Homo sapiens: one gene and its partners. The protein of the gene in region 4 interacts with the protein of the main gene of each other region in a pairwise test. Each region holds a gene or a part of one and is shown on either strand. Other genes may lie near its edges.

Region 1 (2,398 bases), on a different chromosome or scaffold from region 4:
GCCGGGGAGCCCCCAGCTCCCCTGCCACTGGTGTCCTCCCCTCGCCGCAGGGCAAGTCCACCTCTCTCTCCAAAGCCAGCCCTGAGAGTCAGGAGCCTCTGATCCAGTTGGTGCAGGCGTTTGTCCGGCATATGCAAAGATAGGGCAGTGCTGTTCTGCCCACCTACCCCTCTCCACCAGCCTACACTGCACCCTGGCTGGCAGGGGTGCTGCTGGCTGCTAGGGCCTATACAATGGAGGGCACCTCCTGTCACCCCCCTCCCGGAGTAGCCACGACTCCAGCCACCACCCACTGACGTTATTTTTATACTAGATGAAGAGGTCAACAGCAGGCATGGGGAGCCGAGTCTTCTGTGCTCAGGTCCTCACGCTGCAGACGCCCCCTAGAGGAACTTTCCTTCCTTTCCAGCATTCCCCACAGCACTGCCGGCCAGGGGAGAGGCGGCAGCCCAGCAGAGGGCTCTATGCACGGGTTTCAAACCTGTTTTCCACACTCTGTCTTTGCAGTTTTGGTAATTCTGTGGTCTATTTATACAGATATTAAAATCTTGTTTATAGACAGCTGTGTGATGTTTAACTTCAAAGCCCAGGGATGACAACGTGGCTCTCAGAACCTAGAAAACTCCCCTGGCCAGGCGCCTGGGAGTGGGGCTGCAGCCTCGGGGGAAGGCAGGTACTGATGGATGGCTAGTTCACCAGCATCTCCTCATTCCTGTCCTTGGGCTGAGGGTTTGGCTGGGTGGGCGCTGTCAGATATTCCCTTCCTTGGCCTGCGCTGGTCCTGTCCTTGACCCTGCTTTCATTGGCCCAGTGGGCTGAGCTCATCCCTGGGTGAGCCTTTCTTGAAGCTCTGTGCCTTCCTATTTATAGCCCCGTGCCCCCGTCATCCCCCGATCCCCTCTTCAGAAGCCCCAACAGTGGGGCCTACTGGCTGTTGGCCTTCTCAGGACTGAAGTCAGAATGCTAGGTCCTGCTAGGGGCCATCTAAAACACAGACATCACTTAGGGTTTCTAGAATCAGGCTGCCTGGGCTTCAGTCCCTGCTTGGCCACTTGCCAACTGTGGTCCCTTGAGGAGCTGACTGTCTTGCTGATCTCATCTGTGAAATGTGGACACTGAGGACGGCATGAGAACCCATGGCACGGGGGCACATGCTGGGTGAAACGCCCGACCTGCAGACAGCACTGACCGCTACCCACTTCTTGTGCTTGAACTGAACTGTCAGACGCATTCTACAGTCCGCTCCACAATCCAAATTTAGGAAACTTTTTCTTAGGAATAAAACGTTCCTTGTGCGGCTTCATGTCCAGGAACAGCACTGCCCTCTGAGAGGCACAGGCCCCGCAGAAGACAGGGAGGGCTGCACTTCTTCCCAACTAGAGAGCTGGGGGCCGGGGCAGCCACAGGGCCCCTGCTCACTCTGTGGAAGAGTGGGGCAGAGGGTGAGTCTACCTTTCCCTTTACCACCCTCAGGGCCAGGCCCTGACAGGAGCCCAGGTGACTCGCACACAAGGACGGTTTATTGGCTAGAGAGCAAACGCAGGCAGAAGTAAAAACACCAGATAAAAAGTGAGTGTGGAGAGGTGAAGACTGCGGCCGCTGGACTTGGCTTGAGCTGTGAGGGGTGGGAGGGGAGGATAGCACCGGAAGATGCTGCTCCGGGCCCAACACCAGCCCTGGCCAGGCTCTCCCCTCCCAGGGGCAGCGCCCAGTCCCCAGGGGCTGCCAGAGCCCTGTGTGCCTTGCCGCATTCCCCTGATGCAGCTTTTGGCAACTGAAAGGCAGGGCTCTCGCTGAGTGCACCTGGGGCTTCCTGAGCCCATCTGCGGCGGCCCCACCCTGGCCTAGGTGCTGAGTGCAGCTGCTGCAGACAGCCCCTCCCTCCTTAGTGGAGCCTGGAGGGTGGGGTGCTCGGGGATGCAGGCAGGGGCAGGGGCTCCAGAGCCACAGGTCAGAAGCAGGGCTGGGGGAGGGGTGGAGCCATTCAGCCTCAGGCACCCTCACAGCTAGGTGACTAGGGGCAGGGACAGAATGGGGTGAATTCTCCCCACTCTGAACAACTGTGTCACCAACAAACAAGTTAAGTGGCAGGGCTGCGCCCATCCTCTCCTGCCTAGGCCAGAATGCGGGGGGGATGGGGGCACCTGCCTAGCTGAGCAGTTCCAAGTAGGTGACAGGGACCTTGCCCTTCTTGTTGCCTCTCTCGCCAATGAGCCAGTCAGGGTCCATGCCAGGCAGGCTGTAGACAGTGATGAGCTGCAGAGATGGCAGTAGAGGACGGTCATGGCCTGGCCAAGGGTGGAACTGGCCCCAGGACTAAGTGGGGACAGAGCTGCCACCTCCCCATGGCCCGTGGCATGTGCTACACCTTCAGTGGCTGGCGCTCATCTCACTTGCT
Region 2 (3,500 bases), about 25 Mb from region 4:
AAACTTTCCCCTGATGGTTTAGGATCATTATATTGAACGTAAACTATTTGATTGTGTGATAACATAATCGTGCTGATTTTTTAGCTTTTTCATTTTTGCCTCTATGTCAGACCACATGACATTTTTTGGTAGCGTCTGACTCATCAACCCTCTTTAAAATGCTGCTTCTCACATTTCATGGGTTAAGAAACCACACAACTAACTTAACTGTGTGTTAAATAGGAGCCAACTAGGATCTAAGTGCAGGTCAAATTAAAAAGTAAACAATTCAATATAGTAGCTTTTTGACAGCTATTTCTTATAAATGGAGGTCTTCTGCACAGGTTCAGTGGCCAAAGTTTTCCAAGTCTGAAACTAGCCTAAAGCAGGTCCTTAATTAGTCCCAGAATCTAAAAATGTTTATTTTCTCAGACCTAAATTTGAGATAGCTTGCTCCTTTTCTACCCGAGAAAGAAGTATTGGAGAATGTTTATCACAAACCTCTACCACCTACATCTGGTTTCCAAAAGCAATAAACTTACACCAACCACTGGCAAATCAGGTAGTAACCTCAAGCGGTGGTCCTGACAAAATTTAATGGAAGAATAATCATGTAATTCATCTCTCCTGTCTTCACCTCCACCTTCATTGCTGGAATCAGGTCAGTCTGCGACCACCTTAGGAGTACATAGTTAGGGTTCCTTCAAAAAGCAACTTTACTACAATCAATAAAGAGGCCAGGTGGTCAGGTGAATTGTACCTCAAAACCAAATAGAAACATCCTAAAGGCAGAGCCACAGGAAAATTCTTGCAGGAATTCCATGCCTCTGTTCATCTTCTTCCTGCTAGTTAGAACATCCTTCCCACCTTGTCACCTGGTCAACCATGGCTCATCCTTCACCTCCCAGCTCAAGTATCACCTACTCAGTAGTCTCCTGACTCCTCACCAGATGCAGTAACTTTCTACTTTGTGCAACCTACCACTGCATTTTGTACACATTTCTAACATAAATCAGATAACAATGTAATTTGCTTACTTTTCTTCTCAATTTCAAACTGAATTACCTAAAAGCAGAATGTTGCTTTCGTTTTTGAAAACCCTACAACTGAGAGTGCCTGGTCCACAAATAATGGTTTTTGAGCAAGTGGAGTTCAAAAAGATTTCATACCTAGCACTGATCTTTCACAACTCTATTCATTAGGAGATGTGAAAAATAACTTCCATTATAAAAATAAAACCACGAAGTATCACTCAGTCACTTACATAATCAAAAAGGAGGAGGCCGGGCGCAGTGGCTCACGCCTGTAATCCAGCGCTTTGGGAGGCCAAGGCGGGCGGATCACGAGGTCAGGAGTTTGAGAGCAGTCTGGCCAACATGGTGAAACCCCATCTCTACTACAAATATAAAAAAAAATTAGCCGGGCACAGTGGTGGGCGCCTGTAATTCCAGCTACTCAGGAGGCTGAGGCAGGAGAATCACTTGAACCCGGCAGGCAGAGGTTGCAGACAGCCAAGAATGCACCATTGCGCTCCAGCCTGGGCAACAAGAGTGAAACTCCGTCCCAAAAAAAAAGAGGAGAGAGGGAGAATAAACAGAAACAGAAACAAACCAAAAGTGGTTATCCAGTATTATTTGGGATTAGCTTCTTAATTTGAAGACAGACAAGTGCACCACCAATTAAAGATAATAGACACCTAGCGGAATCTAGGTGTCTACTTCTTGGTCTACAATAAGCTTCTTGGCAAAGCACTACTAGAAAACCCCCGCCTAATCAGTTTCTTTTTTCGGCTATAAAGCAGAAATCTAACTAGTCCTTCAACATCACCTCCAGAAAAGTATTTCATAAAATTTACATCTGAGAGAGTTAAACCACCAGCTCCTGGCCATAAAGATACACAGGCAGGCCGTACATGACAGAATGTCATAAAATTAGTTCCAGCATGGTCATCAGTTCAGCCTCTAAACTTGAGAACTCACCGACAGCACACCTCACATGGGTCCACCCAGAGAGTGAGCTCCTTTGGCAAGCCCAGGTCACTATACAAGATGCAGCTGTTTTCACAGGCTTTCAGGACATCAGGATCAACTCTCTGAAATTTATTGACACGAATACATCTACAACAAAGTGGAGTTACGTTAATGGATTTAAATGAATTTAATCATAAACGCCGTAATATCTATTCATACTTGCCAAGGTGAGTAATAAAATAGTAATAAAAAAATACCCTGGTAGAGAACCTAGGAGCATATCTATCCTAAACAGATAATAAATGTGAACTACAGGCACAGAGGCAGCCTGAAAAAAAGATGGCACCTATGTGAGCCCAAGGAAATCACTAGTACTGGGTCTACCTCAGTCTACCCAGAGACTTGACCACCCATGTACATTAAATGAGCACGGAGTATGAAAGTTGCACGAAATTTTAGAACTCTGAAGGTAAAAGTTTCTATAGGCCAAGTTCCTATACAAAAAAATCTCTAACAAAAGGCCTCATCTAATGTTTCAGATGGTATTTGGAAATGCTTACGACAAATTCTGATCTGTCATTAACTTGCTTTTATATCTCAGATAGTAAAGTGGTAAGAGGACACCCTTGCTTTACCTATAATTGTTCTATAAATACAGGATAAGTGAAGGACACAGATTCATTCATATCATATACTTATGATTAAAATACCTAACTAACATGTTATTGGCTTATTTCATTTAACTTCTATTTACCCAAGCACTTTTATTTAAATAGTTGTCAAAATTAAGTGAGGAAAATTTCTAAACCAATAAAGCCTCTGTCCCATCTTTTTTTAACCTATTATACGACATCTACCTAATGGAATGTTTAATAAATAAAAAATATGCATTCTGTTAAATGATAAGCATTCTGATTAAGTAGGGAAATAGGGCCTATGAAGGAAAAGTATTTACTGCCTACAATCAAGAATCAATCAAGAGAACTTGGATTTCAGCACTAATCCTAGTATTTATCAGGTAAGCCTAGTTAAGTCACTGTACCTCTTCCTCAGACCTGTAACTATAAAACATGGAAATACAAGTTAATTGATGAATAGTAATTACGCTGTAAAATACAATGATATAAAGACTAATGTGCTATTTAAAGTTTTTGTAAAAGTTAAATTATTAGTTGGTTTTAATTTCTATTTAAAAAATGAAAAAGTTCTCAACAGGTAATAGGAATAAGTGTTTCTACATAATAATATTAACAATAATAAGCATTTTAAAAAATTTATTATGCAATGGACAATTTCCTAAATGCTTTGCATGTATTAACTCTTAATTCTCATGATCATCCTGTGAGTTAGATACTTTTTTCCTCAGCATAAAGAAAAAAGGAGGCAGAGAGAGTTTGAGTAACTTCCCAACATTACACAGCTACTAAGTGATGGATCTAGGGTTCAAATCCAGGCCACTAGACTCCAAAGAGCAAGTTATTTCCTTAATACTCAACCCTGTATATACGTACCTATCTTAGCGTCACCATTAACAATATAACAAAGGCAAAG
Region 3 (3,500 bases), on a different chromosome or scaffold from region 4:
GTCAGAGCAAAGACTCCCACATAAAAGGAAATAGCTTCATCCCTGAGCCAGAAGCTGAGCAAGACCAAACCTGAAGACGTTACTCTTTCCAGGGACTCTCCATGGCTAAATGAAGGGAGGATGGTTGGCCCAAGATCCAGGAAGACAGAGTGAAGGGAGAGGTAGGGAGGCCAGAGTCTCATGGCGGGTGCGATAGGCATGTTCTTTCAGGAGAAGGGGGCATCTTTCTAGCCCATTGCGTTCTGCTATCTTGTGGTATGGGGTGTGGCCCATCTGCTTCTTTATTCTTGCTGGACCTCTCTAGACTTGCTCTCCCGTCATTTTTGGCACCTCACCTGGCCTCTAGGAATGTGATTAGTTCACTCCATCCTGACTCAGAGGCAGAAATGGCCCTGGATTCTCAGAATGGTGGTGGTGGCAGAATTTATGGACCTACTGTATATAATTTTGTTTTGTTTTGTTTTTTGAGACGGAGTTTCACTCTTGCCACCCAGGCTGGAGTACAATGGCAGAATCTCAGAATTACAGACATGCACCACCATGCCCGGCTAATTTTTTTTTTTTTTCGAGATGAAGTCTCACTCTGTCGCCCAGGCTGGAGTGCAGTGGCACATTCTCGGCTCACTGCAAGCTCCACCTCCTGGGTTCACGCCATTCTCCTGCCTCAGCCTCCCAAATAGCTGGGACTACAGGTGTGTGCCACCATGCCCGGCTTATTTTTTTTATTTTTAGTAGACACGGGGTTTCACCGTGTTAGCCAGAATGGTCTCAATCTCCTGACCTTGTGATCTGCCCGCCTCGGCCTCCCAAAGTGCTGGGATTACAGGCGTGAGCCACTGTGCCTGTCCTGATTTTTGTATTTTTAGTAGAGATGGAGTTTCACCATGTTGACCAGGCTGGTCTCGAACTTACGACCTCAAGCGATCCACCCACCTCGGCCTCCCAAAGTGCTGGGATTACAGGCATGAATCACCATGCATGGTCAATTCTCTTTTTTTTTTTTTTTTTTTTTTTGAGACAGAGTTTCGCTCTTGTTGCCCAGGCTGGAGTGCAATGGCGCGATCTCTGCTCACTGCAGCCTCCACCTCCCAGGTTCAAGGGATCAAGGGATTCTCCTGCCTCAGCCTCCTGAGTAGCTGGGATTATAGGCACGCTTCACCACGCCTGGCTAATTTTGTACTTTTAGTAGAGATGGGGTTTCACTATGTTGGTCAGGCTTGTCTCGAACTCCCAACCTCAGGTGATACACCTGCCTTGGCCTCCCAAAGTGCTGGGATTATAGGCGTGAGCCACCGCACCCAGCCTTTTGTTTTTAACTAAACATTTTATTTGGAAATTTTTTTCCAAAAAAAAGCAAGAATATTTCTGTGGTCTCCTATGTATTCCTTACCTAGATTCATCTATATAAAGCCATGTTTGCATGTCCTCTCTTTCTATATACAAATATATATGTATATAGATAATTATGTTATATCATAAATATATCATTCCTATTCTTTCTTTAACTACTTAAGACTAACTTGCAGACATGATGCTCCTTTACCCATAAGTACTTCAGGGTATATTTTCTAAGAATAAGAACTTTTTTTTATGTAACCAGTAGTTTTCAAAACCAGGCATTTGACACTGATTACAAAGTCAGTGTTATAATGATTTAATAATCATGATAACTAGATTAATGTAGACCATAGACTAGATTAATCCAGTCTACAATCAGATGTCAACTAATACTGTCACTTTATAGCAACTTTTCTTTCTTGCTTTTTCTTATTTTTTGAGACCAAGTCTCGCTCTTGTCACCCAGGTTGGAGTGCAATGGCGCGATCTTGGCTCACTGCAACCTCTGCCTCCTGGGTTCAAATGATTCTCCTGCCTCAGCCTCCTGAGTAGCTGGGATTACAGGTGCCTGCCAGCACACCCGGCAAATTTTTGTATTTTTAGTAGAGATGGGGTTTCACCATGTTGGCCAGGCTGGTCTCGAACTCCTGACCTCAGGCGATGTACCCACCTCGGCCTCCCAAAGTGCTGGGATTACAGGGGTGAGCCACTGTGCCCGGGCCTATAGCAACTTTTCTTTTCTTTTTCCATTCCAGGATCTAATCCAGGATCATATGCTGCCTTTAGGTGACACATCCCTTTAGTCTCCTTTAATCAGGAGCAGTTTCTCAGTGTTCATCTTCCATGAAGTCGACATTTTTGAAGAGTATAGGTAGGTTATTTTGTATATTGTAACTCAGTATGGTTTTGTCTGATGTCTCCTCATTGATTAGGTTCAGGTATGCATTTGGGGTGTGAACACCACAGAAGGGATGTTGTACCCTTCACAGTGCATTATATCAGGAGGCACATGATGTCTTATATCTCATTACTGGTCACGTTAACTGATCACTTGACTAAGTGATACTGCCAAGTTTTTCCAAGGCAAAGTTACTTCTTTTCCTTTTATAATCATTAAATGTCTTGGGGTGTGGGGCATTTAGATACTATGGCAACCATGCTTTATGGTCTATGCTTTATGACCTATATAATATTTCAAAGTATTTGAAACAAATAAGAGATAAAGGGTATTTATTTGTTTGTTTATTTATTTATTTAATTTTTGAGACAGGGTCTTACTCTGTCACCTAGGCCAGATTGCAGTAGTGGGATCATGGCTCACTGCAGCTTTGACCTCCTAGGCTCAAGTGATCCCCCCACCTCAGCCTCCTGGGTAGCTGGGACTATAGGTGTGCAACACCATACCTGGCTAATTTTTTATCTTTTTTTGTAGAGACGGGGCTTTGCCATATTGCCCAGGCTGGTCCCTAACTCCTGGCCTCAAATAAGGTGTAAGCCACCACACCCAGCTAAAAGCATGGATTTTTGTACAATATTTACAAAGGGAATTTGCAATTTCCAAGACAGGCCTAGCTCTTTACACTCTGTTCTCTGTTCTCTCTTTCTCCATCTTCTTCCCCCCACATGTCTACAGGTGTCAGATCTTTTTCAAGAACAGCAGAAAATGATCGAATACCAGGTAAGTATCACATTAAGTAGCCCAGTTTTCCTTCCTGGGGAAACTGTCCTAGAGGAAAAAAAGGGTGTGCATTGTAAGTATGTACAGTTTGTACATACAGGCTGGGTTCTCAGGGAAGCTGACTCATAGATGGAGATTTTTCTCACAGGAGGTTGATTAGGCAGGCTCTTAGAACACCTGTAAGACAGTGAGGGAAGCTGGATTGGGCTGAGGGAATTGTTGAACAGAGGCCTTAGTGGATCTTATCCTCTGGAGCTGGGATGGCCTTCAGCATTGTTGTGAATGGAGGCAAGGAGGCTTTTATATTCTGAAATCAACTAATCATTGATTGTAGGCTGCCCCGAGGAGGGTAGATATCCTTGGATGGTGCAGTACCCTTTGGCCAAGGATAATTCTCAGAAAGGTTTTAAGCCGGCCGCTAGGGGTAGCTCATGCCTGTAATCCCGGCACTTTGGGAGGCCAAGGCAGTTGCATAACCTGAGGT
Region 4 (3,500 bases):
CCCTAGTAAGGGGAATGTATCCCTTCTAGAGTAGGGCTTGCCAAGCTGCAGCCCACGGCTCACTCCCTGTTTCTTTTTAAATTATGGTTTTATATGTACGTTTATAGAGTTTGAAATTTGCCATTTTAAAGCATGCTTTCAGTGGCATTCAGTACGTTCAGTGTTGTGCAGCTGTGAGAATGATGCATTTCTGGAGCTTGTCCGTTATCCCAGACAGAAACTCTGTACCTATTAAGCAACAACTCCCCATTCGACCTCCCCCAGCCCCTGATAGCTTTTAATCTACTTTCTTTCTCTATGAATTTGCCTATTCTAGATGTCGCATATAGATGAATTCATTCTGTATTTGTCCTTTTGTGTCTGGCTTCTTTCATTTAGCACGACGTTTTCAAGGTTCTTGCTTATCCATTTGTCTGTTGATGGACAATTGAGTTGCTTCCACATTTTAGCTATTATGAATAATGCTGCAGTGAACATTGGTGTGCAAGCATCTGGTCGAATCTCTGTTTTCAGTTCCTTTGGTTATATACCGAGGAGTGGAATTGCTGGGTCATATGGTGATGCTGTTTCGCTTTTTGAAGAACTGTCAAATGTTTTCTACAGTAGCTGCAGCATTTTACGTTCCCACCAGCAATGTGAAAGGGTTCCACCTCTTGGTTTTATACATAAAGTGGCGTGCAGTTCCCAAACTAGTGCTGTCAGCTTCACCTGGGAATCTGTTAGGAATGCAGCTTATTGGACGCTATCCCAGACCTGCCGAATCTGAAACTCTGGGGGTGGGGCTAGCAATCTGTCTTTTAATGCTTTCTGGGTGATTCTGATCTAAGTCAAGTTTGAGGACCCTGTCCTGCAGCATTGGTGTCACCCTTCATGGGTGGCCATATTCAAACACTCTGAGACCAAAATAGAGAGTAATTGATTTCCCAGTGACTCAGTGGAAGAGGCAGGTGTCTGCCCCTCTCTGTCATCGGTATTATCACCTATGTGGCAGCGAAGTGTTCCATAGTCATAGTGCTGATGCTCAGATCTTTGGAATTTTGTGATAGTCACAAAACTGAGAAGTAGGCAAATATGCTTGGCAAAATTGGCACATGTTGGCTGCTCACCATTGTCGGAATTGTACATTTTTTATTACAAAGTGTTCCATGTTCAGACTTGATGAACTCTCATTCTGCTTTCCTTGAATTTTATTTTTCCCCATAATCCTTGACACTTGAGCTTTTGCGTTTATGCAAATCCATATCATATGGACATCTTAGGAACTTCTTAGGCCTAAGCCTAAAACAAATGGCTGTTTCTTTTATTATTTATATAAAGAATAATATAAATAATTATGTTTCTACTAAGCTCAATAGACATATAATTATATAATACACGATTTTTTATATTAGAGTTGCAAAATGTGGCCGAACAATTGAAAAGACCACTTACTCCTGGTCACTCAGTTCTGGCCACTTAGTCCTGGCCATGTCTTAGCTATTGCAGGCGACTGCGACATGCTCATCTGAAAGCCTTTTGTGGCACCCATTATAAAGCTCGCTGGCCCAGCATTGCTCTGGAGACTTTATTCCTCACCCTGGCTCTTTCAAGATCCATTCTCAACCCTGAGATTATACCATGGATAGTCAGCAACTGGTCTGATTCCTGAGTGACGTCCTAAAAAGGCTGAAACACAAGCCAAAACCTGTCTTTCAAAACTTGTCCTTCCTCCCTCACTTTTAATATTCCAGACCAAGATGACACAAATGTTGGTAAATGTACATTTTTGCACTTAAAATAGGAAAGAGGAGAAGAGGAAGAGGAGGAAGAATTAGTAACTGTTGTTCCAAAATGGAAAGCTACCCAAATCACTGAATTGGCCCTGTGGACACCAACTCTCCCCAAAAAGCCGACCTCTACGGATGGACCTGGCCAAGACGCTCCAGGAGCTGAGAGTGTGGGGCACCCCCGGGCTGTGGGGTGGAGGGGGCAGAGGGTGTGGGGCACCCCCGGGCTGTGGGACAGAGGGTGTGGGGCATCCCCGGGCTGTGGGGTGGAGGGGTCAGAGGGTGTGGGGCATCCCCGGGCTGTGGGGTGGAGGGGGCAGAGGGTGTGGGGCATCCCCGGGCTGTGGAGTGGAGGGGGCAGAGGGTGTGGGGCATCCCCGGGCTGTGGGGTGGAGGGGGCAGAGGGTGTGGGGCACCCCCGGGCTGTGGGACAGAGGGTGTGGGGCATCCCCCGGGCTGTGGGACAGAGGGTGTGGGGCATCCCCAGGCTGTGGGATGGAGGGTGTGGGCGCCTTTGGGCTGTGGGAGTTGTGGACATCCTGTTTTCAGGCCAGGTGTGGTTGGACTCTCTGAAAATCAGATGCTGGGTCAGTTGAGTGTGCGGGATGTTATTAGGGAGAGCCTTTGGGATTGGAGGACACTCCCGGAGAGCGGAGGGGAGAGGAAAGAAACAGAGTTGATTGGACAGAGGCGGAGGTGTGGCCTCCACAACCTTGCTTCATTCCATGGGGAGCACTGTGGCGTCTCGGGGACCCTTATCCCCTCACCTAGGTCAGTGAGTGAATGTGGGTGTGACCCCGGGCTGGCACTGACAGCAGCTGAGGGGACAGCCCTTCCCTGAAGAAGGGTCCGTGTGGCACCTCCATGTCCAACCCAGTGGTCTTTCTGGAAGTCCTTAATGTGCTGGGGAAAGTTGAAGGTGGCTACCCCGGGTGAGATCCCTTCCATGGCAAGCGGAGGAAAGCCAACTCCGATTGGCCTCCGTGAAAGAATACTCATGCTGCTAAGAATTTCTTGGCTCATGTGACTGGGAAGCTCCGGGACAGCCCCCAGAATGGCCGGGCAGCCTCTGCCCTCTGTCCCAGCTCTCCTCTCTGCTGGCTCCCCTGGCTGGCACTCTCAGGAACCCCAGGGGACTTCTCTTTCTCAAGAGTCTCATCAACACCCTCAGGAATGAAAGTTATCAGACTACCTGCTCCCATCCCCAAGCCACTGACTACAGTGGGGACTGGGCTGCTCCCCTGGCCAGGCCTAGGCTGGGCTGGGTGGATGTTGAGATGGGGAACATGAGGTGCTGCCAGTGGGAGGGGGAGGGTGGGGGCACGGCAGCCCAGGGGACAGCTGCCCTGCACAGGTCTGCAGGCTCCATTTTTCCCAGGAACTCAGGCTTCTGACTTGTGTTTTATCTCAGGTGCAGGAGAACCCGGGGAGGAGGCCCAGGCTCTGCTGGAGGGCTTCGAGGGTGAGATGGACATGAGGCCTGGAGATGAAGATGCAGACGTCCTCCGGGAAGAGAGCCGGGAGTATGACCAGGAGGAGTTCCGCTATGACATGGATGAGGGTGAGGTCCCTGCGCAGGGAAGTGGGGCGAGGGCCCGCACTTAGGGGCCACGAACAGTGGGATTCCCCTTCCCTTCACCAAGGCCTGCCTTCAGCTGGGCCCCAGGGACTCGAGGAAGGCTTAGGGGGCCCCCTGTGAGCGCTCACTGGAGCCATCTCAGAACGTTGCTCCCT
Region 5 (3,500 bases), on a different chromosome or scaffold from region 4:
CATGTATCACTGTGTACATAAGAAATCACTCCTCCAACGTTAGCCTAATTGAAGGGCTAGACTAATTAGTGAGTCAACTGGCCACTAGTCCTCACTGGCATCTTCTCTTTGTTTTTTTTTTGGAGTCTCTCTCTGTCGCCCAGGCTGGAGTGCAGTGGCGTGATCTCGGCTCACTGCAAGCTCCGCCTTACGGGTTCACGCCATTCTCCTGCCTCAGCCTCCTGAGTAGCTAGGACTACAGGCACCCACCACCACGCCTGGCTAATTTTGTTTTTCTCTTTTTAGTAGAGATGGGGTTTCACTGTGTTAGCCAGGATGGTCTCGGCTAGTCTTGATCTCCTGACCTCGTGATCTGCCCGCCTCGGCCTCCCAAAGTGCTGGGATTACAGGCGTGAGCCACCGTGCCCAGCCCTCACTGGCATGTTCTATAAGCTCAGCCCTGTGCTGGATGTACAGGGTTGGGGAGGGGCGATTTGAGAGAAATGAAAAGACAATTGCTGCCTTTAAGAAATTTACAATCCAGTTGGGCGTGGTGGCTCATGCCTGTAATCCCAGCACTTTGGGAGGCAGAGGCGGGTGAATCACGAAGTCAGGAGATCAAGACCATCCTGGCTAACACGGTGAAACCCCGTCTCTACTAAAAATACAAAAAAATTAGCCGGGTGTGGTGGCGGGTGCCTGTAGTCCCAGCTACTCAGGAGGCTGAGGCAGGAGAATGGCATGAACCCGAGAGGCGGCGCTTGCAGTGAGCTGAGATCGTGCTACTGTACTCCAGCCTGGGCGACAAAGTGACACTCTATCTCAAAAAAAAAAAAAAAAAAAAAAAGAAACTTACAATTGGCTGGGGGCGGTGGCTCACGCCTGTAATCCCAGCACTTTGGGAGGCCAAGGCGGGTGGATCACCTAAGGTCAGGAGTTCGAGACCAGCCTGGCCAACATGGTGAAACCCCATTTCTACTAAAAATACAAAAATTAGCTGGGCGTGGTGGCATATGCCTGTAAGCCCAGCTACTAGGGAGGCTGAGGCAGGAGAATCACTGGAACCCGGGAGGTGGAGGTTGTAGTGAGCCAAGATCGCACCACGGTACTCCAGCCTGGGCAACAGAGCAAGACTCGGTCTCAAACAAACAAACAAACAACAAACAAACAAAACTTATAATCAAATAGAAAATGAAGAGGTCCTGGATGGTTTCCTGGAGAAGGCAAGACTTAAGTCGACCTTGAAAGAGGGCAAACAGTCTCGGAGTAGGGGGAGCCTCACCTTTCTTCCTTCCAATCAGGAATATAACATGCAGGGGTCTGAGCACTCCCCAGTGGGCTCACCTGTGCTGCTTGTGTAAATCCCAGTCTCGCGGACCCTGAGATGAGCAAGCTGGTTGCGAGGCGCCTGGGACCTGAAGTTGCACCTCCTGGCCTCTTCCTCCTCTCAGGCTAGGTTGTAATTGTATAGCTGGGGCTTGCATTTATTCACCATCTTCCTGCTGCTCAGGGTCTCAGAGTTCAGAGATGACTGTGGATTATCCAAGGCTGGATTTGGCTCTCTGACCTCAGCTCACGCACACAGGTGCACACACCCCTCTTTTCCATTACCCTGACACTTGACTACCTTGTTTCTTCTCCTCGCCTCTAGGTTCGCAAGGAGCTTGAAGTAAATGGCATTGAATTCTACCCCCAGAAGGAATTTGATGAGGATTTGGAGGATAAGACGGAGAATGACAAAATCAGGGTGGGTGCCTGGGGCACTGCTCCTCCACTGATGCCCCCTTGCGACCTCTGGGATGTGTATTGTGCACGTCCTCTGTCTGTCTTTTCCCTTTCTGTACTCCCCCCAACCTTGCCTGACCCAGACCAGAAGTGACATAGGGGGATGGGGAGGACTATGGCCCTGGACTGTGAACCCACAGAAGGGCTCCCTGTACCCAGAAAGCCTTCTATCCCCAGACCACATAAAAGCCTCCTTTTCCCCAACAAGGTCTGGCAAAAACAGTATTTGGGGTGATGGGAGGGGCAGCAGGCAGGAAGAGCATCAGGCTGGGGTCCAGGAGGATCTATGCTGTGGTCAGACCCTGCCTTAGTTTCCCCTCTATGAAATGCAGGGGTTAGACTGAGTGGCTTATAGGCTTCCCCCGCTAGAATAACTTAAAAAAATTAAATTGGCTGGGCGTGGTGACTCATGCCTGTATCCCAGCACTTTGGGAGGCCTAGGTGGGAGAATCGCTTGAGCCCAGGAGTTCACGACCAGCCTGGGCAACATGGCAAAAACTTATCTCTACAAAACCTGCAAAAATTAGCCAGGCATGGTGGCGCATGCCTGTAATCCCAGCTACTCGGGAGGCTGAGGCAGGAGAATTGCTTGAAGCCAGGAGGTGGAGGTTGCAGTGAGTTGAAATTGTGCCATTGCACTCCAGCCTGGGCAACAAGAGCGAACTCTGTCTCAAAAAAGAAAGTACAAAGCGCTCTGCAGCTGAAGGAGAGCTGATTCCTGAGGTTAACCAGTGAGGCAGTGGTACAATTGGGACTAGACCCAGGACTCTTCAATCTCAGTCGGGTGCTCTTTTCAAGAGACTGAGCCTTGCCCTTGCCATCAGTAGTATCTCTGAATGAGCATCAGAAGTGTGTGGTTCAAGGCTAGAGGACCATATGCCATCCTGCTCCTGAAAGTCCAGGTTGTTGGAGGATGACGGTGCACATGTGTCTGGTTTGTGTTTCTGCCCCGTGCAGCAGGAGAGCATGCCTTTTGCTGTGGTGGGAAGTGACAAGGAGTACCAAGTGAATGGCAAGAGGGTCCTCGGCCGAAAAACTCCATGGGGGATCATCGAAGGTAATTCACTGCATCTTCTGGAAGAACTGGTTGCTGATCAGTTATCCAGTCACCATTTATTAAGCATCTATAGGTCAAGGCACTGTCTCAGGACATATGAAATGAATGCCAGCCAGATTCTGCCCATAAGGAGCTTACAGTCTCATTGAGAAGACGATGCTCACAGGCAGGAGTAACAAGAGACTGATTTAGCACCTGACTGGGTGGCACTGACTTAGCGCATCAAAGGAGTTCAGAACATGGAGAGATTAGTAAGGCCTGGAAAAACTGGAGAAAGGTTTTCATAGGAAGGGGGATGTGATCTGACAAACTGCCGGAGGGTTGTTCAGGTGTTGCCATTTCCATTTTATTATGAATGGATGTGACCCTGGGCGGGTCTTGATGATTCTGAAAGTGGTCAAAGAATCACTTTAATGATTTCATTCAATATGATAACCCTATGAAGGGAGGAGAGCGGGTGCTCCTGTTCTCAGAGTATAAGCTACCAAAGCACCGGAAGCTCAGGTTAAAAGCCTTGTCCAAAGCACATAACTTGTTAGTGGTGAAACTTGATTTCAGACTCAGATTTTTTTTTTTTTTGAGACGGAGTCTCACTCTGTCATCCAGGCTGGAGTGCAGTGGCGCAATCTCAGCTCACTGCAACCTCTGCCTCCCAGGTTCAAGTAATTCTTCTGCCTTA
Region 6 (4,259 bases), on a different chromosome or scaffold from region 4:
GTCAGATGACCGGCACGTGTGCCCTCACTCACCTGAGGAGATGCCCCTTGGGGCCTCTCCATCCAGAGCTCCCCGAGGAACCGAGCACCAGGGTGTTTCCCCTCGCTCCAGCTGGGAAATCAGAGCCGGTTTGGGAAATGGAAATGCTGCTTAAAAGGAAAGAAATGGGACAGGCAGGTGAGTGGCATGGCACACAGTAATCCCAAGGCTCCTCCCAGGCCAGTGTCTTCAGGGGTAGGAGGGGAAAAAAACGGAAATAACTAGGAAGAACAAGAAAAGGAATTCCAGGGGAAAGGACAAGAGAGGGGCCAGGAGACTTACAAAGGTCAGGAAGTTGACAGACGACTCAGTAACTGTTTGAGTCAGCAAATGGATGATTTCACTCATTGAGGAATTGAGTCCTCAATTCTTACCTGTCCTCTCCCTCTTAGAGCTCTCAAGTTCAGACATCCTCATGAGGATGCTTGGAATTAGGCTGGATCTTGCAAACCGAGAGGGGAGGGAACTGAAGGCTCAGTGGAGCACCATGAATTTGCTCTCTTCTCACTATACCCACAACACAAGGGTAGGGGTTTGGCACCTCTCACTCTGGAGCAAGGAAGTCCTGTATAAGGCCCAAACTGATACCAGGACTTCCTACTTTCCAACGGCTGCTGAGGTTAGGTCATTAAAAATCCAAGAGCCTGAAGCTGCCATTGAGCTGAGGGTTATCAACAACTCCTGAGCCTTTGAGAAAAAAGGAGCCAGCAAACTCTCAAGGGTGGAGGCAGGGCCCAAAGGGAGAGACCCTTACCCAGGGAAGCCACAGCCCCATAATTCTCCAGCATCACATCCCTGTACAGGGCTCTCTGAGCAGGGCCCAGGCCGATCCATTCGTTCTCAGAGAAGTAGACGGCCACATCCTCGAAGGTCACTGACTCCTGAAACAACATGTGTTTAAATGCCCTAGGACAACCCCAGGACCAGGCCAAGAGGAAGGGGAGACAGGGCATCAAAAGGTACTGTGGGGGTGCCTGTGGGGATTCTGGATTCTGAATGTCTACAGGAACTCTATCAGCAGAAGATTTTTGCCTCCTATGTACAAAGAGACAAGGCATCAGCCATCAATTTTCTCATGTCTCTTCATCTTTATTTCAGCAAACATTTTCTCCTCTTTTTCATGAGTCTGCAAAAGTTTTCTTGTTTCATCCTTATACCCCAAACCACATCTGTGCTCTAGGTCCCATCCTCTCTCCACAATGTGTCCTCCTTCAGAGGTCACCCACCCTTGATAACAACTATCATTTATTAAGCCTGTGCCAAGCACTTGACATATATTCTTTGTTATGTCTCATAGCCTACTATCAGATCCGTTTTTTAGAAGAGGAAACTGAGACTCGGAGGGATTAACTTCCCCCAAAGTTCCAGAACTGAGACAGAACCCAGGCCTGTTTGACTCTGGCTCTTGCCTGTTATGCCACACTGCCTTCCGTCCCCATTCCTGCCATCCCTGCTGCCCCTGTATAGGACTCTTCCTCCTTTGTCCTCCCCAGTCACTGCCACCAGCCACAGAGGCAGCTAGGGCTCCTCAGAACATTCAGGTTGCTCTGAACACTGTACTCAACAGGGCAGATCCTCGTTGTGACTTTACTCCCTGCACCCCCACCACCCGCAACACTCTCACAAAGATCCCACCTCACTTGCTTACCCACGTCCCAATCTCCATGTCCCCATTTTCTATATCTCTAGGAGTCTCAGCTCCTGCACCTTCTTTCTCTCATCCTCTTAAGAAACAAATACTGCTGACCTCCAGCCGTTGGGACTTCCCGTAATTCTCAGCCACTGCCTCCTTCAGGGTCTCAGTCTCCACACTGTGGAGGAGCCCATTCTGGTCCACTGCACTTCAGTCCTTGCGCACTAGAAAGTCTCCACAGCTATTTATCCAGCACTCCAGGGCTCCAAGGCTTTGGCTGGCTCAACTTTGTCTGCCTAATAGAGTCCACATTCCTCTGCACTACAGACAATTCCATTCACTACTCACAGACCCAGCTTTCCTGGCCAGGATCATCAGCCACCACCACTCTCATCTCCGATCCTCTCACCATTGCATTGGGAAACCAAACTCTTTCCTCACCCTGTTCTGTGTCCTTGCACCTGCGGCTACTCTTGCCTGAATATCCAGTTCTTCCTTCCTGCTCCTGCATTGCAAATTCCTTTTCAACCTAATACCCAGCTCAAACATAACCAGCTCTGTAAAGGCAGCTCTGAAATTCTGGCCATTCATCGCCCCCGACAGCACTCTGTGCGCTCTGCCCCAGCAGTCGGCTCAACCCCGTGCCGCTGCACGTCTGCTCTCCTTGAGGCTCAGGTCCAGGGGTGTCGACTCCGCTGTGCTGCCTGTCCCTCGAGGCCCCTCACTCTGGGTTGTACCCCCATTTCCCAGCCGCCGCACCACCCCGTCTCCGGGCCTAGAACCCAGGGCAGGGCCAAGACTGCTTCCAGGCTCCGGCCCCGCACTCACCCGGCGCGCCCGGGGCAGCGCGGGCTGTCCCGGGAGCAGCTCGAGGACAAGGCCGAGGCGTGTCCCGCTCGCCAGCGCCACGGCCGCCATAGCCCAGGTCGCCCTCTGGGAAAGCGAGGGCGCGCCAGACCGGACCAGAGGCTGTTGGGGTCGCGGAAGAGCGCTCTGCACCTGGGCAGGCCTGACACGGCTACCCTGCGCCCTGCAGCCACCGGAGTAAGACCCCGACTCCACTCCCTGCCCGCCCCACGCCCGACTCCCCGTGCTCCACACCCGCCAGGCCCCAGCATCCGGGAGGCCGGGGCTCGGGCCGCTCCGGTTGCTCTAGGACGGCGGAGGGCGCCGCATCTCTGTGGTCCTCCTTTCTCGCTCGGGGAGGGAGGGGAGAGCGGTCCGGTTCTCCTGGAGACACGGACGATCCCAGGGACCGCTACCGGGGTAGGGGTGCAGGCGGCTGGGGAGGAATCCTTCCCCTGCGCTCTAGGCCACCCCTTCCTCTCCAGCTCGCTGCACCCTAGGTGGACAGATATTTGCTGATAGGAGGTAGCGGGTACTTCACTAGACTGCACCTGCTCTTTTATCTCTCCTTTTACCAGTTTTTGCATTCCCAGAGCAGACCTGTATTTTATGTCTTTTAACATTCTCATCTTTGTGCCTCTAACATGCGCCCGATGTCTAGCACCTCCTGGGGAGTTATTTCTTTAACTGCCAAGGAATATTTGTAGAATTGTCCACGAAAAGTCAAACTGTAAAATATTTGAAGGGATTTATCCTGAGCCAAATATGAGTGACCATGGCCCGTGCCACAGCCCCAGGAGATCCTGAGAACATGTGCCCAACGTGGTCGGGCTACAACTTGGTTTTACACATTTTAGGAAGACATAAGACATCAATTAATACATGTAAGATGTACGTTGGTTCGGTATGGAAAGGTGGGACAACTGGAAGAGGAGGCTTTCAGGACATAGGTGGATTCAAAGATTTTCTGAGTGGCAATTGGTTGAAAGAGTTAAGTTATTGTATAAAGACTTAGAATCAATAGAAAGGGATGTCTCAGTTAAGATAAGGGCTTGTGGAGACCAAAGTTTTATCATGCAGATGGAGCCTGTAGCAGGCTTCAGAGAATAGACTGCAAATGTTTCTCATCATTATCACACTACCGGATAGTCTGTGAGACTTAAAGAGGCTGTTCTATCAGTCTTAAGGTCTGTGTTGATGTTAATGCTGGTCAGCTGGTCCTGAATTTCAAAAGGTAGGGGAGCATAATGAGCCATGTCCAACTCCTCCTTCCCATTATGGCCTGAACCAGTTTTTCACGTTAACTTTGGAATGCCCTTAGCCAAGAGGAGAGATCCATTCATATGGTCAGAGGGCTTTGAATTTTATTTTTGGCTTACGGAATAAAAGAATGAATAAATGTTGAACCAGTTTTTCAGTTGAAGAAAGTAAGGCCCAAAGAGAGAAAATGGCTTACCTAACATTATGCAACATGCCAGGAAATTAAATTTTTTAAGAAGTGTGAAAATAAAGATTATTCAAATGAGAACAAAGACTATTATTCAGAGCTTGCTATATATGACAAGAGAGTCAGCCCTCATCACTTGCATTCAGCAGACTGAAAGTCAGGCAGAAGAGTGGGGAAAGCTTCACAGTGGAAAAAAGGAATGGCTTCAGGTATTCCCTTATTGGAAGTTGCTGGCATGGGGAAACTACAGGCGGGCTAACTAGAAGCAGGGAATCTTATGTAATTGGTAGGGGG
Region 7 (3,962 bases), on a different chromosome or scaffold from region 4:
ATGGAGAGGGAGGCCAAGGCTGACTAGGGGCGTCCCTGGGAGAGACCCAGCTACTGCGAGGATGAGGGGTAGGGGGGTTCTACCCAAGTTCCGGGGGCTGGCTGGGAACTCGGAGGCCAATCTCCTTCAGCTGTTCCCATCTCTTCCCAGGGCAAAAATCAAACCATCACCCCCTCTCCCTCCTCCCCAAGGAGAGGACAATTTCCGTTCTGGGAGGGGGGTGACAGCTGCAGAGCGGGCCACTCCCCACCCCCCCAAGCTCCAGCCTGACTCTCATCTAGGGAAACTGCTAAATCAACAATACGCAGTTACGGGTAGGTAGCCCGCCGGCCTGAGTTTCCCCGCACGGCTCTCAGAAAGGGGTTTAGAGGGGGCTTCGGTCTCAGTTCCCGGTTTTCTAGTGGCGGTTGGAAACCAAGGCACGGGCATCTTTCAGGAGGGGGATCAGGTGAAGCTTAGGCCAGTAGGTCCCCCAAGACGTCTAATTTAAATACTCCCAACTGCAAAGGACAGACGCCCCCCACCCCGCGGCCTGGGGCAGCTGAGGTGGAGCCGGGCGTTCAAATCGCGCTCCAAACAAGTCCGCAGCGACCGCGCTCGCAGCCCCCGCCAGGCGGCCCCAGCGGAAAACTTGAAAGGGACTCTGTTTGCCGGCGGCCCTGGGGCGGCTCCGGCGGGGGCGAGGGCCGAGCGATCTCACACACGCCCCCTCCCCAACGCTTCCAAAGAAAATGCGGGGGTGGGGGGGACAGGGCCCACCACAAATCCAAGGGCTCCAAACAGCGCCCGCCGCGCGAGGAAAGGTGGGGGTCAGGAGTCTGGTCCGCTGGTCACCCCCTTAGCTCCCCCCCCATCCGAAGGCGCGACTCTCAGACCACCCAAAGTCCAGGGGGCAAAGGAGGGCGCGGTTGCCAAACCTTCAGACCCCCGTCGCGGGAGACTTCAGGGAGCGGGTCTTTCCGAATGAGTCACTACAGAACCCCCCAAATTTACTGGTGCTTCCTTGCAGCCCGAGGCACCAGCCCAACTCCGCGCACCCCTTCAGATTCCCGGGGGGGAAAAAAGAACAAAAAGAGATCTTGCTCCCACTTTGGGCGTTTCAGCTCTTCTGACAGGTCCCGAAGGTGGCCCCCCATTTAAAAACCGGGGTCACTCGCTTTCCGTCGATCCTACAAATAAACAAAGCCAGGCGCACCCCGCGCTCCCCGCCGGAAAGCAGCCCATTCCGGGCGAGGACAACTTCCCCCAGCCAGAAAATTAACACATTCCTCTCGCGGCGGTTCAGCCCCTCACTCCGCTCCGGGGAAGCGAAGGGGAGGGGGGTCGGGCCGAACTTCATGGGTAAATTTGGGGCCAGTGCAGCGTGGCAGGCGCCGGGGACGTACGCCCCCCACAGTTCCGCAGCTAGAGGAACACCCCCATTCTCCCTCCCAGGCTCTGCACGCTGCGTGGCCCACGCGGGGCTCGGGAGACAGCTCAAAAGACTCCCCAAGGCTGGGAAAGGAGGGAGGGAGGGGCCGCGGGGCACCGTGGTGGTGGGGGAGATACTTTGATGGAAAAAAAAGGTCAAACTTCATCAGCCCGCCGGGCACCCCGCGGGCAGCGGGGGCGAGGAGCCGGAGGAAAAATGCAGAAGTAGCCGCCGCTTCTTCCAAGTGGTGGGGGAGGCTCAGCCACGCGTGGTCGAGGGCGCCCAGAGCAGTTAACGTCGCCCCTCAACACAGGGCTGCGAGCGGGGTCTGATGGGGGGAGTGCGCGCCAGAGATCTACAAGCAGCCGCCCCCGCAGGCTGAGCGCCCGCCCAACGCCAAGAGGTGAGGACCCCGGGCGCCCGCTGCCCCAGCGCCCGCGAACTGGAGTAGTGGGGGGGAGGGGGGCGGCACCCCGCAAGGAGCGTCCCAGCCCCACTCCACGGCGCCCAAGCCGCCGTCCCAGACCCTAAAACCCCTCTTTTTGTCTGAACTCAGTGATCTGCGACCGAGCATACTGCGGCTTAGGGAGGCTTGGGTATAGCAGCGGCCACCAAGCGATCACCGGCGCTAGGTCTCCCAGGCTCCGGGGCTCCGCGGCTTACGGTGCGGGCGCCCCCCGCCCCTCCCAAATACGGACCCCTCCTTCCCCGTCCCCGGCTCTCCGCACCTGAACTTCGGGGGAACCCGCGCAGCCAAACTTTCCGCCGACTTGCAGCGAACTCCGGCCCCGGCCGCGCACCGAACCCCGGGGGAGGAGAGGGAGGTAGGCGGGGAAGGGGAGGGGGCCGGCCTCCGGGGGGGGTCGAGGGAGGGCCGTGGCCCGACACCTACCGGCTCTCCGAGTCGTCCAAGCCGCCACCGCCGCCGTCGCCGCGAGGCCGAGGGGGAGGGGCGGGGCAGGGAGCTGCGCTCCGCTCTGGGCACCACCGCCGCGGTGCGCTCCGCTCCAGCCGCCAGCAGTGCCCGGGTCCGGAGCCCGAGTCGCGCCGCCGCGGCTGGCCCGAGGCGGGGAGGGGGGGGAGCCTGCAGCACCTGCCCCTCCTCCCCCTCCCCGCGGCCCAAATTAAAAAACAACAAAAAGCAACTAATCACCCCCGAGCTGAGCGCGGCTCGCGGGCGGAGGGCTCAGCGTGCGGCGCCCGGACTCAGCAGGCGGCGCGCATGGCTGGGCGCGGGCTGGGCAGGGCTGGGACGCGGGGCCCGGCTTCAGGGGATAAGGCTCTGCCGCTCTTCTCGCTCGGCTCGGGCGTCTGCTCTTGCCGCCAGTGCCGCCTCTGCTGCCGCCGCCTCTACATCCCCGCTCAGGCTCAGCCGCCTCTGCCGCCGCCGCCGCGCGCCCGCCCGGGCAGGAGCTATGAACGCTGCCCGGGGGCTGCCGGCAAAACCCGGACCGGACTCGCCGCTCCCTCCTCCCCCCAACCCCCTCCACCTCGGCTCCCCTCCCTCCTCCCGCCGCCTCCCTCCCAGCGCAGCTCGGGCCACTTGGACGCCGCGGGCTCTGAGGCCGGAGCTGCAGCCGCTGCGCCTCGAGCTCCCCGCGCCCTGACGCGGTCCACCCAGGCTCAGCTCCCTTGCGCGCCCCGTCTTCGCCTATTTCCCGCAACTTTACAAAAAAAAAAAAAAAAGGACGACCTCCCCGCTTTGGTGAGGCGGTCTGGGTTTAGAGACGCACCTCCGGGGAAATCTGCTATCTTTCTGCCCCCTCTAGAGCGGGGCCAGAAGCTTCGAGGACCGGGAGGGAGAATTTGGCCGCGCCCCCCAGCTCAGGTGCGCGGCGGGCCAGAGATTCCTAGTCGAGGGTCCTGGGAGGTAGACGCGTGTTCCAAGACCCCACCCTTCCAAGAGCTCCTTAATGGATTCAGTGGGCACTAGGGCCCCGGGAGAAAAGGGGCGGAGATTCCCGTTCCCATTTCTCAGGTGAGGAAACTGATCCGAGAAAGGATATTTTATCTCTCAGGCAGGCATCAGCCTCAACTCTTGAGTCCCGGGGCTAAAACGACTACGTACATTTGGTGCCCTGAGACCATGGCCTACGCACTCAAAACCCGAAACAATGCTTGGAACAGCAGCGCTCAATAGGTACTGATTGAAAGACAGAAGGAAAACTCAGCCTTGCCAGAGTAGGCGCCCAGTGGGGACAGAGTTGGGCCCGCATATCCCGCTTTCACTCCATCAGTGGCCTCCATATGCCCATCTTAGGCTAATTAATCCTGCTGCTGCAGATGTCTTCACCTCACGTACCCATGGTGCAAGCCCCGGGCTCATATAATCCCAACTGCATATAATCCCAAAGTGGAAGTTTTCTCCAATTCTTTGGGATTCGTGGGGGCGGATTTGTGCAAGGCCGACCTTCCTCTGCGAGGCGAAGAAAACGCAGTCCCCAGACCCAAGCAGGGGAGGGAGAGGGGGAGGGCGGTTGGGGAAGTCAGCCTAGGGTTAAACGTTACAGCCTGAGATCGATTGGGGCCCAGATAACAGGGAGTTAACTGT

The links.
Region 1: the proteins of RSPH1 (region 4) and SH3GLB2 interact in a two-hybrid assay, tested with the Homo sapiens proteins (one large-scale study listed by BioGRID and IntAct).
Region 2: the proteins of RSPH1 (region 4) and BTG3 interact in a two-hybrid assay, tested with the Homo sapiens proteins (one large-scale study listed by BioGRID and IntAct).
Region 3: the proteins of RSPH1 (region 4) and ZNF793 interact in a two-hybrid assay, tested with the Homo sapiens proteins (one large-scale study listed by BioGRID and IntAct).
Region 5: the proteins of RSPH1 (region 4) and SEPTIN3 interact in a two-hybrid assay, tested with the Homo sapiens proteins (one large-scale study listed by BioGRID and IntAct).
Region 6: the proteins of RSPH1 (region 4) and ZNF662 interact in a two-hybrid assay, tested with the Homo sapiens proteins (one large-scale study listed by BioGRID and IntAct).
Region 7: the proteins of RSPH1 (region 4) and CXXC5 interact in a two-hybrid assay, tested with the Homo sapiens proteins (one large-scale study listed by BioGRID and IntAct).

What each region holds. Positions count from the first base shown.
Region 1 is NC_000009.12:129,006,536-129,008,933, forward strand, and holds the end of SH3GLB2 (endophilin-B2), read right to left. Parts: intron 2,257-2,398; coding exon 2,149-2,256; coding exon of another isoform or gene 2,007-2,148; 3' UTR 501-2,006; downstream 1-500. Other genes in the region: nucleoporin NUP188, read left to right, coding at 1-143.
Region 2 is NC_000021.9:17,602,902-17,606,401, forward strand, and holds part of BTG3 (protein BTG3), read right to left. Parts: intron 2,097-3,500; coding exon 1,959-2,096; intron 1,376-1,958; coding exon of another isoform or gene 1,244-1,375; intron 1-1,243. UniProt on the Homo sapiens protein: Overexpression impairs serum-induced cell cycle progression from the G0/G1 to S phase.
Region 3 is NC_000019.10:37,520,439-37,523,938, forward strand, and holds part of ZNF793 (zinc finger protein 793), read left to right. Parts: intron 1-92; exon of another isoform or gene 93-161; intron 162-2,093; 5' UTR 2,094-2,209; intron 2,210-2,971; 5' UTR 2,972-3,001; coding exon 3,002-3,016; intron 3,017-3,500. UniProt on the Homo sapiens protein: May be involved in transcriptional regulation.
Region 4 is NC_000021.9:42,475,725-42,479,224, reverse strand, and holds part of RSPH1 (radial spoke head 1 homolog), read left to right. Parts: intron 1-1,780; coding exon 1,781-1,934; intron 1,935-3,177; coding exon 3,178-3,327; intron 3,328-3,500.
Region 5 is NC_000022.11:41,989,943-41,993,442, forward strand, and holds part of SEPTIN3 (neuronal-specific septin-3), read left to right. Parts: intron 1-1,630; coding exon 1,631-1,726; intron 1,727-2,721; coding exon 2,722-2,821; intron 2,822-3,500. UniProt on the Homo sapiens protein: Filament-forming cytoskeletal GTPase. May play a role in cytokinesis.
Region 6 is NC_000003.12:42,904,683-42,908,941, reverse strand, and holds the start of ZNF662 (zinc finger protein 662), read right to left. Parts: upstream 2,801-4,259; 5' UTR 2,774-2,800; exon of another isoform or gene 2,591-2,773; coding exon of another isoform or gene 2,501-2,590; intron 921-2,500; coding exon of another isoform or gene 828-920; coding exon 794-827; intron 150-793; coding exon 33-149; intron 1-32. UniProt on the Homo sapiens protein: May be involved in transcriptional regulation.
Region 7 is NC_000005.10:139,647,187-139,651,148, reverse strand, and holds the start of CXXC5 (CXXC-type zinc finger protein 5), read right to left. Parts: upstream 2,801-3,962; 5' UTR 2,304-2,800; intron 2,199-2,303; exon of another isoform or gene 1,968-2,198; intron 1,815-1,967; exon of another isoform or gene 1,421-1,814; intron 161-1,420; exon of another isoform or gene 1-160. UniProt on the Homo sapiens protein: May indirectly participate in activation of the NF-kappa-B and MAPK pathways. Acts as a mediator of BMP4-mediated modulation of canonical Wnt signaling activity in neural stem cells.